3 separate regions of the Homo sapiens genome follow, and regions 2 and 3 are each reported to be linked to region 1. Evidence: microRNA targets listed by miRTarBase, many of them from high-throughput screens and not tested one by one. Region 1 holds a microRNA gene; each other region holds the end of a gene's coding sequence.
The links. Region 1 holds the annotated microRNA hsa-miR-6086 (GGAGGUUGGGAAGGGCAGAG, at 1,070-1,089, opposite strand). A microRNA usually pairs through its seed, bases 2 to 8, with sites in the 3' UTR of a target mRNA and lowers its output. Matches are read on the target gene's strand: a 7mer-m8 pairs with bases 2 to 8, a 7mer-A1 pairs with bases 2 to 7 and ends in A, and an 8mer does both.

Region 2: miRTarBase lists MAGI3 as a target of hsa-miR-6086. Seed matches in the 3' UTR shown: 7mer-m8 at 1,164-1,170.
Region 3: the mRNA of TIFA is a reported target of hsa-miR-6086. Seed matches in the 3' UTR shown: 7mer-A1 at 1,401-1,407.

The regions. Positions count from the first base shown.
Region 1 is chrX:13,588,110-13,591,381 of GRCh38, reverse strand. It overlaps MIR6086 (microRNA 6086), which reads right to left and starts at 1,090; the gene lies at 1,036-1,090. It overlaps EGFL6 (EGF like domain multiple 6), which reads right to left. Exons shown (of 12, transcript NM_015507.4): 2 at 1,714-1,826.
Region 2 is chr1:113,683,600-113,686,599 of GRCh38, forward strand. It overlaps MAGI3 (membrane associated guanylate kinase, WW and PDZ domain containing 3), which reads left to right. Exons shown (of 21, transcript NM_001142782.2): 21 at 1-2,324. The coding sequence ends at 415. Among named protein-coding and RNA genes, the nearest start is that of PHTF1, 74 kb to the right of the region's middle.
Region 3 is chr4:112,275,297-112,278,296 of GRCh38, forward strand. TIFA (TRAF interacting protein with forkhead associated domain) reads right to left here. Exons shown (of 2, transcript NM_052864.3): 2 at 1-3,000. The coding sequence ends at 2,566. Among named protein-coding and RNA genes, the nearest start is that of TIFA, 9.1 kb to the right of the region's middle.

The DNA of each region.
Region 1 (3,272 bases):
CTTGCCCTTTTAACACCTTGCCTTCATTTATTCACCAGCGACATGCTGGGTCTCACAAGTTTTATGGCAGTAGACGCTGATGTTCGTGCAACTGTAAGAGAGACTCTAAATCATGTGTTTCACGTGGTTTTTGCCCCTTTCCACCTGACTGACTTCAAATAAAAATGTGTTATGTTGTGTCTAGCAAAAGAATAAAGCCACATTTAATCCCCCCATCACCTGGTGCTTTAATGACGAGAAGTCTGTGATGAGAATTATTGGTCCTTCCTGAAGGAATGGTAATTTATGAGGTATTTTCTATGCATGCCAGGTAATGAACTCACCCTTTAATGCATACATTCCTTACTCTCAGAGGTAGGTATTGCTCTCTCCAGGTTGCAGAGGAGGAAATTGAGCCTTAGCTAGCTTACCTTAGCTAGCTTGCCCAAGGTCACCCACGTCAGTCTGGTTCTCAATGCCCTTGATCATGACACTATCAATCCAATCAGGATGAGGACCCACCCTTTTAATTGACACAAGTCCCAGGAGGATATTCTAACTTCCTTTATCTAAGTGGGCAATGATGATCTTTGTTTTTGTCTAGTATTTTTATGCTCTTGTCATCTTGTCACAAGCAAACTATGATGGCAGAAGGTTTTGCATAATATGGAACATGTGGGAACGATATCAATGTTTTCTATTGTTTTATAGATTTTGGATATTATCAAGTTCTGACCCCACTTATGGTCAATCCAGATATTTTTTAACCAGCCAGAGAGAAGGAGGTTGGGGCAGGAACAGACTAGCAAAAAGAAGGTAGCATTGTTATTCCTAAAAATAGCTAACATGTTAGTGCTTTTATGGGACCTGCAACTGTGTTGTTATCCCATTTAATAGATAAATAACTTAGGATGAGGCACATGCTACCTACTGAAGGACACAGGGACAGTGAGAGTAGACTACTGCCCTGAAGGAATACACCCCTGGTGAGACAGTCAGGAGGAATGTGGATTTGGTTCTGCTACACTGCCAGTGTTGGTCGTTATGGAAAGTCATAAAAAGAAAAACAAGGCAAAAACTTTATGCTCATCTCTGCCCTTCCCAACCTCCTTGAAATGATCAGAGGCCTCTCTCGGAGTTCCTAACACATAGTCTGAGAAACAATGTCCAAGGCAAATTATGGTTCCTTGGTTTGCAATGTACAAAAAAATCAGCAAAATACTTAAAATCTTTGCATATATGCATATGTACCTTGAAAGCATTTAGAAATTGGCAGTATGAATTTTAAAAATGTGAGTTACAAATCTATAAGCTAAAAGGTGTACTTATTTTGTGGCTGAAGCCTACTGGTTGGGTGATTAATAATTAAAGTTTATTGCATTGGAAATCACTTAAATTATAATTAGAGGAGAAATTTACCAGCCTGCTTTTGCCCATCTTAGTTCCTTTAGATTAAAAAGAAAACCAAAAACAAACAACCCAGTCATACTCATTAAGATAATCACAAAAATAATTGACAAGACAGTCTTCTAAAATAAATCATGCCAAGTATGATGGCGTCAGCCACATTTTGTCTGGGAAGAGATCTCATAGGAACCCAGACCTTGGTTATTGGTAGTTATGCATGTCCTTGCCTGAGAGATCCACTGGCAATTTTGTGGCAGTTCATGGTATGACAGATAAAAACCTAAGGGCCCTGATCCAAGTGCAGGGTCTGAGTTTTTACAAAATTACCTTCACAGACTCCCTTGCTGTTTCTTCTCCAGCCGTAGCAGCAGGCCAGTTTAGTTCCATAGTGACAGACCCCAGGCTGACGTGCCGATGCTAACAACCCGTGATGCCTTGCACTGCAGATAAAGAACTACATGTTAGTATTGAGAAAATAGAAAAGACAACAGAAACTCTTCCCTACTACTAAAAGAACCAGAGATGTCAATTACCTGGTTAATTTCAACGAACCCGCAGTAAGTGCTAAATTAGATTTTGAAAACCTGAATTTTGGGGTTGCCAGCCTTCCTCAATAATTAGTTTCAACCATTTCCTTCTTCCCCACGGTTAAAAGAATCTATAAAACTAGGGCACATGAAGATGTCCAAAGTATATGTTTTTGAACCTTGTAGAGTGTCACTTTTCAGATCTGCTCTGTATACGCACAGCAACTATCCAGTTCTTTGTCTATTTCAGTCACTTTCTAATCCTGTGGCTTTGTCCCAGACCAGAGCTCTGCACTTTTATCCCACTGGCACCTGGGAACCATTGAATAGACTGGAATCAACATACACTATAGATGATTAAGAGTTGGAAGGGCTCGTTCAGCAAAGCCCTCTTATGTTACAGAGGAGGAAACTCCAGTCCAATGGAGTGGAGTCACATCCCCAGCAGAGCTGGGTGTTGGGAATTCTAGCCCAGGGCTCGTTCCCATTGACCTCCTGGAAACCCAATTTGCTAAACTGCTTAATTTTAGAGCAGAGATCGGCAAACATTTTCTGTAAAAAGCCAGATGGTAAGTATTTTAGGCTTTGTAGGGCCATAAGATATCTGTCCAAGTACAAAAGCAGCCATAGGCAATAGTAAACAGATGCGCATGACTGTGTTCCAATAAAACTTTATTTATGGACACTGTAATTTGAATAGCATATAATTTTCCTGTGTCATGATATGGTATTCTCCTTTTGCTCCATCTTCTAACATTTAAAAATGTAAAAACTGTTCTTCGCTCATGGGCTGTTTATAAAGAGGGGATCACCTAGCTTTGGCCAGCAGGCTGTAGCTTGCCTGATCTAGATGCCTGAAAAAGGTGAGCCCCCTGTCCCCCACCAAGTGCCCCCAAGTAGTGCCGCCATGGATGAAGCTCACTGCATGTTTACCTACTTACTGTCCTGGTATTGGACAGGGTTGCTACCAGACTTTGAAGGAAAATACTTGCATTGTATGTTTAGTGGAGGGCTGTGATTATTTCCTTACACATATTAAATACACTGTAAAAATGTTTCCTGGGCTCTTTAACAGACAAAGGAATGCACATTTTACCATGTGCTTTCTGCTACAGAACTGAACTTCATGCAAGTTAATAATATCTAAGTCAAGGTCGGGAAGTTAAACAACCTTGTAGATTTCCCTCAAGATCTGCCTCTCCCACAAATGTGATTACTCAGTTAAGAGCTATAAAGATATGGTCTGAGACATTTCATTTACTGAGAGCACCAAATGGGAGGATGATTTTAACATTTACTTTTTCTTGAAGAGAACTTTTTTTCATTTTTTAATGGAATTAATTTTAGGGATTCATAAGT
Region 2 (3,000 bases), not on the chromosome of region 1:
TCAGTTGGAAAAAAGCAGAACAAGGTCTCCAGAGAAAAAAATCAAAAGAATGGTTGAGAAATCTCTTCCATCCAAAATGACTAATAAGACTACAAGTAAAGAAGTATCTGAAAATGAAAAAGGAAAGAAAGTAACCACAGGAGAAACAAGTTCTAGTAACGATAAAATAGGAGAAAATGTCCAGCTATCAGAAAAGAGGCTGAAGCAAGAACCTGAAGAGAAGGTAGTTTCAAACAAAACAGAAGATCACAAAGGGAAAGAACTAGAGGCAGCTGACAAAAACAAAGAGACTGGAAGGTTCAAACCGGAAAGCAGTTCTCCAGTTAAGAAAACACTGATAACTCCAGGGCCCTGGAAGGTTCCAAGTGGAAATAAAGTCACAGGCACTATTGGTATGGCTGAGAAACGGCAGTAACCTTTAGTATAAAACAAAGAAAAACAAGTTGTAATCTTTTCTTACAGCAGCATTTTTCCAGAAAAAGCCTTTTTTTTTTTTTCAGATATTCTGAAACAGATAAGTACATGTTAATGTGAGCCTCAAGTTACCTAGGCTGCATGAAGGGCCTTTAGGATTGCTAAGAACCAACTGTCCCCCTGGCCGGCTGCCCTCCCTCGCTCTCAGGAAGGAGCTGCATCCACATGCTCATCTGACCCGCCCTGCTCAGGCTGCCCAGCTCGTCTTCATGAGTGTCTGAACAAATGACATATGTTGATATTAACAATGTGGTCACAACTCACTTTGTATTTGTGCCAAGTTATCTACTGTATCATGTCTGTTTTTATCCTTTTTGTTCAGCTGTTTCCACAGTAATGAAAAAGTTAGGTTTGGCTTGGAAGTTGATGATCTCAATAGCATGTTGCATGTTTACAGAGAGAAATATGTGAGTCCTTGCAGAAGAAGAGACTGTTAACTCATCGTTAAAGATGGCCGTTGTCTCTTCTAACAGCTACTGATGATGTCCCACTTTAAAAATAAAACCCCCAAACATCACTACTTTAAGGAAAAAAAAAATGTAGTCCAATATTGATGCTTTCTTATGGCTTTTTATTTTAATTTGGCTGGATAAGTTGTTTCAAATAACTGTTAAAGATATTACTTACAATTGAATGTTTGAAATAAGAAAGTACTTTAAGCAATAGAGTTCATCTCCTGCTGTGTTATCCAACCTCGATGTATACTTACAGCATCTCAGGTCACCCTTTTTATTTCAGTTATTTAATTATGAAACCATAAAGAAGCATGTGGAAATAGTGTTTATTGCTCTTTGAAGAAAAACCACCAACTATTTCTGGATATTTTGGCTGTACCTACTACTAAAGTCATTAGTCTTTAATACATAATACATATTTGAAAAGTAAACATATTATATAGATTATGTGAGGGACTTAATCATGAAACCAGTTTCACAGTCCAAGTACCAACTCTTCTGGTAGCAGGTGCACAAGCTTGGGTGTTTAAAAACAACCTGTGTAGGGTATGCCCAGCAAATGAGGACAAATGTGTAGACAGTACTTACTGGATCTTATTTAACTTTTAGCTACATTAACTAACTTTCTTATTTAAAAACAAGAAAGGGAGACTAAACATCTGCTTAACTTGTACACATTTTCAGAATTCTTTTTAAAAGTCTAGTTAAAGATGTTTCTTAGAAGTTGGAGACTGTTAACAACTTCCATAAAATAGATCCAGGTTTTTCAGTTCCCTGAAGCAGCATTCAGTAGCATCTATATAAATAAAGGCACCTTCTGAGAATAAAACTATTTTATGGAGTGTGTGAACACACTTGTTCTGTCACCTGGGTTCATCTTGTTGTGAAGCACATTAGGTCCAGGTCCTTCCCTCTGGGAGTCTGACTGTGAAACTCTTTAACCCAACAACTCAATTAGCCCCTGTAGATAAGACATGCTTCCCAGAGTGAGATTTTTGAAATCCCCTTTTCATCCAGAACTATATTTACCCACCTATTGTAACTATTCAAATAGAGCAAAATTAGGAGGCTTGATAAATACTAAGAATTTAGTACCACAGAAATTATTTATTATTTTCCCTGTAGTCCACAATTAGTGATAACGAATCCTATTTTTGTTAACTGTGACATAACTTTGATGTCATATGTTGTCCTATGTGGTTCTTCCTAAGTAAACTCTGTACTGATTATATACTGACTTAGCAATGTGGCCTTGGAATGCTGAGCAAAATGTGGATGTACTGGTTGTAAATGTTTATATATTGTACAGTACCTTTATATATACACTTGAGGTTCTGATTAGAGAAAGATCTGTAAATTGCTCATTATTTTTTATATAGATATTTAAAAAAAACAGTTTATGGCCTGCATTTCTTTTACTGTCACATTGGTTTAATGTTGCTTTCTAATGGTGGAGCTAGGTCCCATCATAGTCTGAGTCCTCAAATAGATTTTGTCCCTCCAAGTAACAAACTTTCAAAGTCCTAAAATCAGGAAGAGTCTTATAATAATGATTTTACCTCTATAGGTATACTTTTATTTATTTATAAATAGAGTTTGAAATTCTTTAGAGTTGAATATCATTATAACCATTTTTCATCTTTCATTGTAAAGAAAATAGCTTTGGATAAATAATTTGCTACTGAAAATCCTTTCTTAACACTGTTGGGGAGAGAAGAGGAGTTTCTCATTGGAAATTCAGCTACTAGACATTTATAATGGATATAGTAATATCAGTCCAGTTACTACAAGGTCACAAAATCCCATTTCATCAGACTAATGATTCACATTATCTTTAAAGATCATTTATTTATTTAGTTTTATACTTACTTTTAGAATGTTTTGACTTAACTCGGTATGAAAAGTGCCTAAAACCTACTTCAAGACCACGGTTAATTTTATACTCTTTTAAGGTGAAATATAAATTCCCACTTACCATTGCAAGAACGCATACTAAAAATAAACCCACGGTCGGGCACAGTGGCTCATGCCTGTAATCCCAACACTTTGGGAGGCCAATGCAGGCAGATCA
Region 3 (3,000 bases), not on the chromosome of region 1:
CTACAGGTGGCCATGGAGCCAATATGCATTGAGGGTCAGAGCCAGAGCATTCGAATCTCACCTGAGGTCTGCTGCATTCCTTCCTCGGTTCTATGAAATATGGTAGCTTTCCTCTAACAACCCCGCTTTGGGGTTGGGTAGCTCAGGCAGAGATGCTAACTTTGTAATCAAAACAATTCTAATACTAACCAATTGCTCTTTCATTATTAAAGCGTTCATTATTATTTACTACCGGAGTTGGGCTATGGAAAGTGTTTCTATTCTTTGGAGAACAATATAAACTTTTAGCAACCCACTCTCTCCTTTGCCAATCTTTGAAGAAAAGAAAATAGAATAAAAAATTTAATATTTCTCAAGTTGAACAAAACCCTTTCCAAGATTTACATTAGGAGAAATCATTATTCTGTACAAGATTTTTCTGGCCCTAAATATTACTTAACACATTGTTTGGATTCAATAACAATAATACATGAATCCCTTAATATTAAATTTATAACTTAGAAACACATTCATCAGCCTCAAAGACAAGAAACAGAGGTGAAAGTCTTCCAAAATAGTCAAAATGTGACAGTATACACACATTAAAGTATATACACTTCACTCATAGAACGCCTTTACCATGAGACTACACACTGTAAGCAATTCAAGCCGGGTGATCTGGCTGTAAACCCACATCAGACCAGAAGCTAAAATCCTAGAAAGAATCAATAGTAGATAACCTTATATTAAAGGGAGTATATTAGTTTTCTATCTGCTGCTATAACAAATTACTGTGATTTAGTGGCTTACGACCAACACAAATTTATCATCATAAAGTTTTGTAGGTTAACAAGTCAAACATATTCTCACTGGACCAAAATCAAGGTGTCCACAAGACTTTGTTCCTTTCTGGATATTTCTTTGTCTTTTCTGGCTTCCAGATGTCCAATGCACACTTTCCAGCTTCAAGAGACTGTCCACATTCCTTGGCTCATGACCTCCCCTTCCTCCCAGCAACAGCAAGTCAAGTCTGTCTCACACCTCATCACGCTGACATCCTGATCTGCCTCTCTTCCACTTTTACGGATCCGGTGATCAATTGGGCACACCCAGATAATCCAGCATAATCTATTTTACTTCCATCTGCAGCCTTCATTCCCCTTTGCCACATAACAACACAGTTACAAGTTCTGGAGACTAGCACATGGACATCTGGACATCTTTGGATGGGCCATTACTCTGGGCATCACAGGGAATAAACAGGAAAACCAGACACAGGAACTCCAACAGTCATTCAGGCCACTTTGTACAGGGACAAATATTTCACTCTACTGGAATAGTCCCAGGGCTGGGGAGTCGGGGTTAGGGTGCTGGACATCACATACTACTGCCCAGGAATAGACTGACAGTCTGAATCAAGATGAGGTTTAAAGCCTCTTTTGGTAAGAGGCTGGAGGGTTCCCAAAAGCATTTTTAAAAGGCTGTTACAAAAATACGGACCTCTTACTACAGGAAATTTCATTTACCTGGAAAATTGTACAGTGAGCCTCACTACCTGGCAATGCTACAATTTAACTTAACTGAATGGTTACCTCATCTACTTAACATTCATAGCTACCTTAGTTAAGATAAGTCGAATAAGTATCTTAAATAAATAAATTTTTATTTAAGAACTGAAAAAGACTTTTTTGAAGTTAATATTTTAGAAATATTTAAGCGTTTATCATAAACATTCACATACATTTATCTCTGTAAAGTGGCCCAAGAACAGTTATTTCCCTTATTTAGAAAAAAATTCAAAGAAAATGGCTAATTAAACTTTGATTTTATTATGTACATGGATACTATTAAAAAGGTGAATTCGTGAAATTTTAAGATTGTGTATAACACATAAAAGTCAAACTTCTAATTTGGTAAGTAAATAATCCTAAACTTAACACAGTGGTTCTTTAAAATGTTTAAATATTTGTCTTAGATGCTGAATATAGACAAAGAGAACTGTCATCTTAGGAGTAAACACACTATAACTCTGTAAAAAGAAATCATAGAAAAGTAAGGTAGTATTTCTCAAATAAGTCCTCCCATGCTAAAACCACAGTGACGCGCAGACACTAGCCTAGAACCTATTCCAGTACTGCAAGTACTGACAGGCTGCAAACACCAGTAACAACCTGCCTGGAGCCTTGACCTTGAAAACAAATGGCTGTTGTGAACTGATGTGACCAAACCAAGAGATGGTTCCTTACAAAAACAAAGCAAAACACAAGATGAAAATCAAGCAGAAAAAGAAAATAATATAACCTTATTTTGAGAACACGACTTCATCTCAAAGGATACTTTTTGTATATTAATCCTCACAGATTAATAAGAGCAGTTAAAATAATTTTGTGTAGATCCAGAATACAACAGGTGACTAAGTTAATGACTAACACAATTTACAGACTTCAAAATGATAATACTGAATTCCAAATTTCACAGCATAACAGATGACTATAATATACTACCCTAATCAACTCTTATTTAGTGTCTATACAGCATCTACAGAGCTCTTCATCCATCATATTTCTCCTCTTAGACTTTCTGTGTTCATGACTCATTTTCATCCATTTCTGTCGGAGAACTGCTTTGGGAGGAGCAGAGCGAATAAGTGCCATACTCCGGTATGGGCCTGTGTGGTGGCCAGTTGTTTTCTTGCAAGAGTGATCTTGGAGATAAAATAAATTGAGTCTCAAAAAATTCCAATGACTCGCCATCTTCCTTCTCCATCAGAAACTGATACTCTCCGAATCTGACCATGCACCTGTATGGCAGGTCCATTTTATTTAGGTAGCCCAGCTCTCTGCTGTCCACGATCAGATTGGTCTTTTTACTCATATTTTTTATTTCAAAGGAGAGAACTGAGCTGTTGAATTTTTTAAACAGCTGCAGAGAAAACTGAACTCGGGAAACCTGTTTGTCCTGAAAAGTATAATGACAGATGTTGGAATTTCGGCCAAATTTCACCACTTCGCTGGAAGGGAG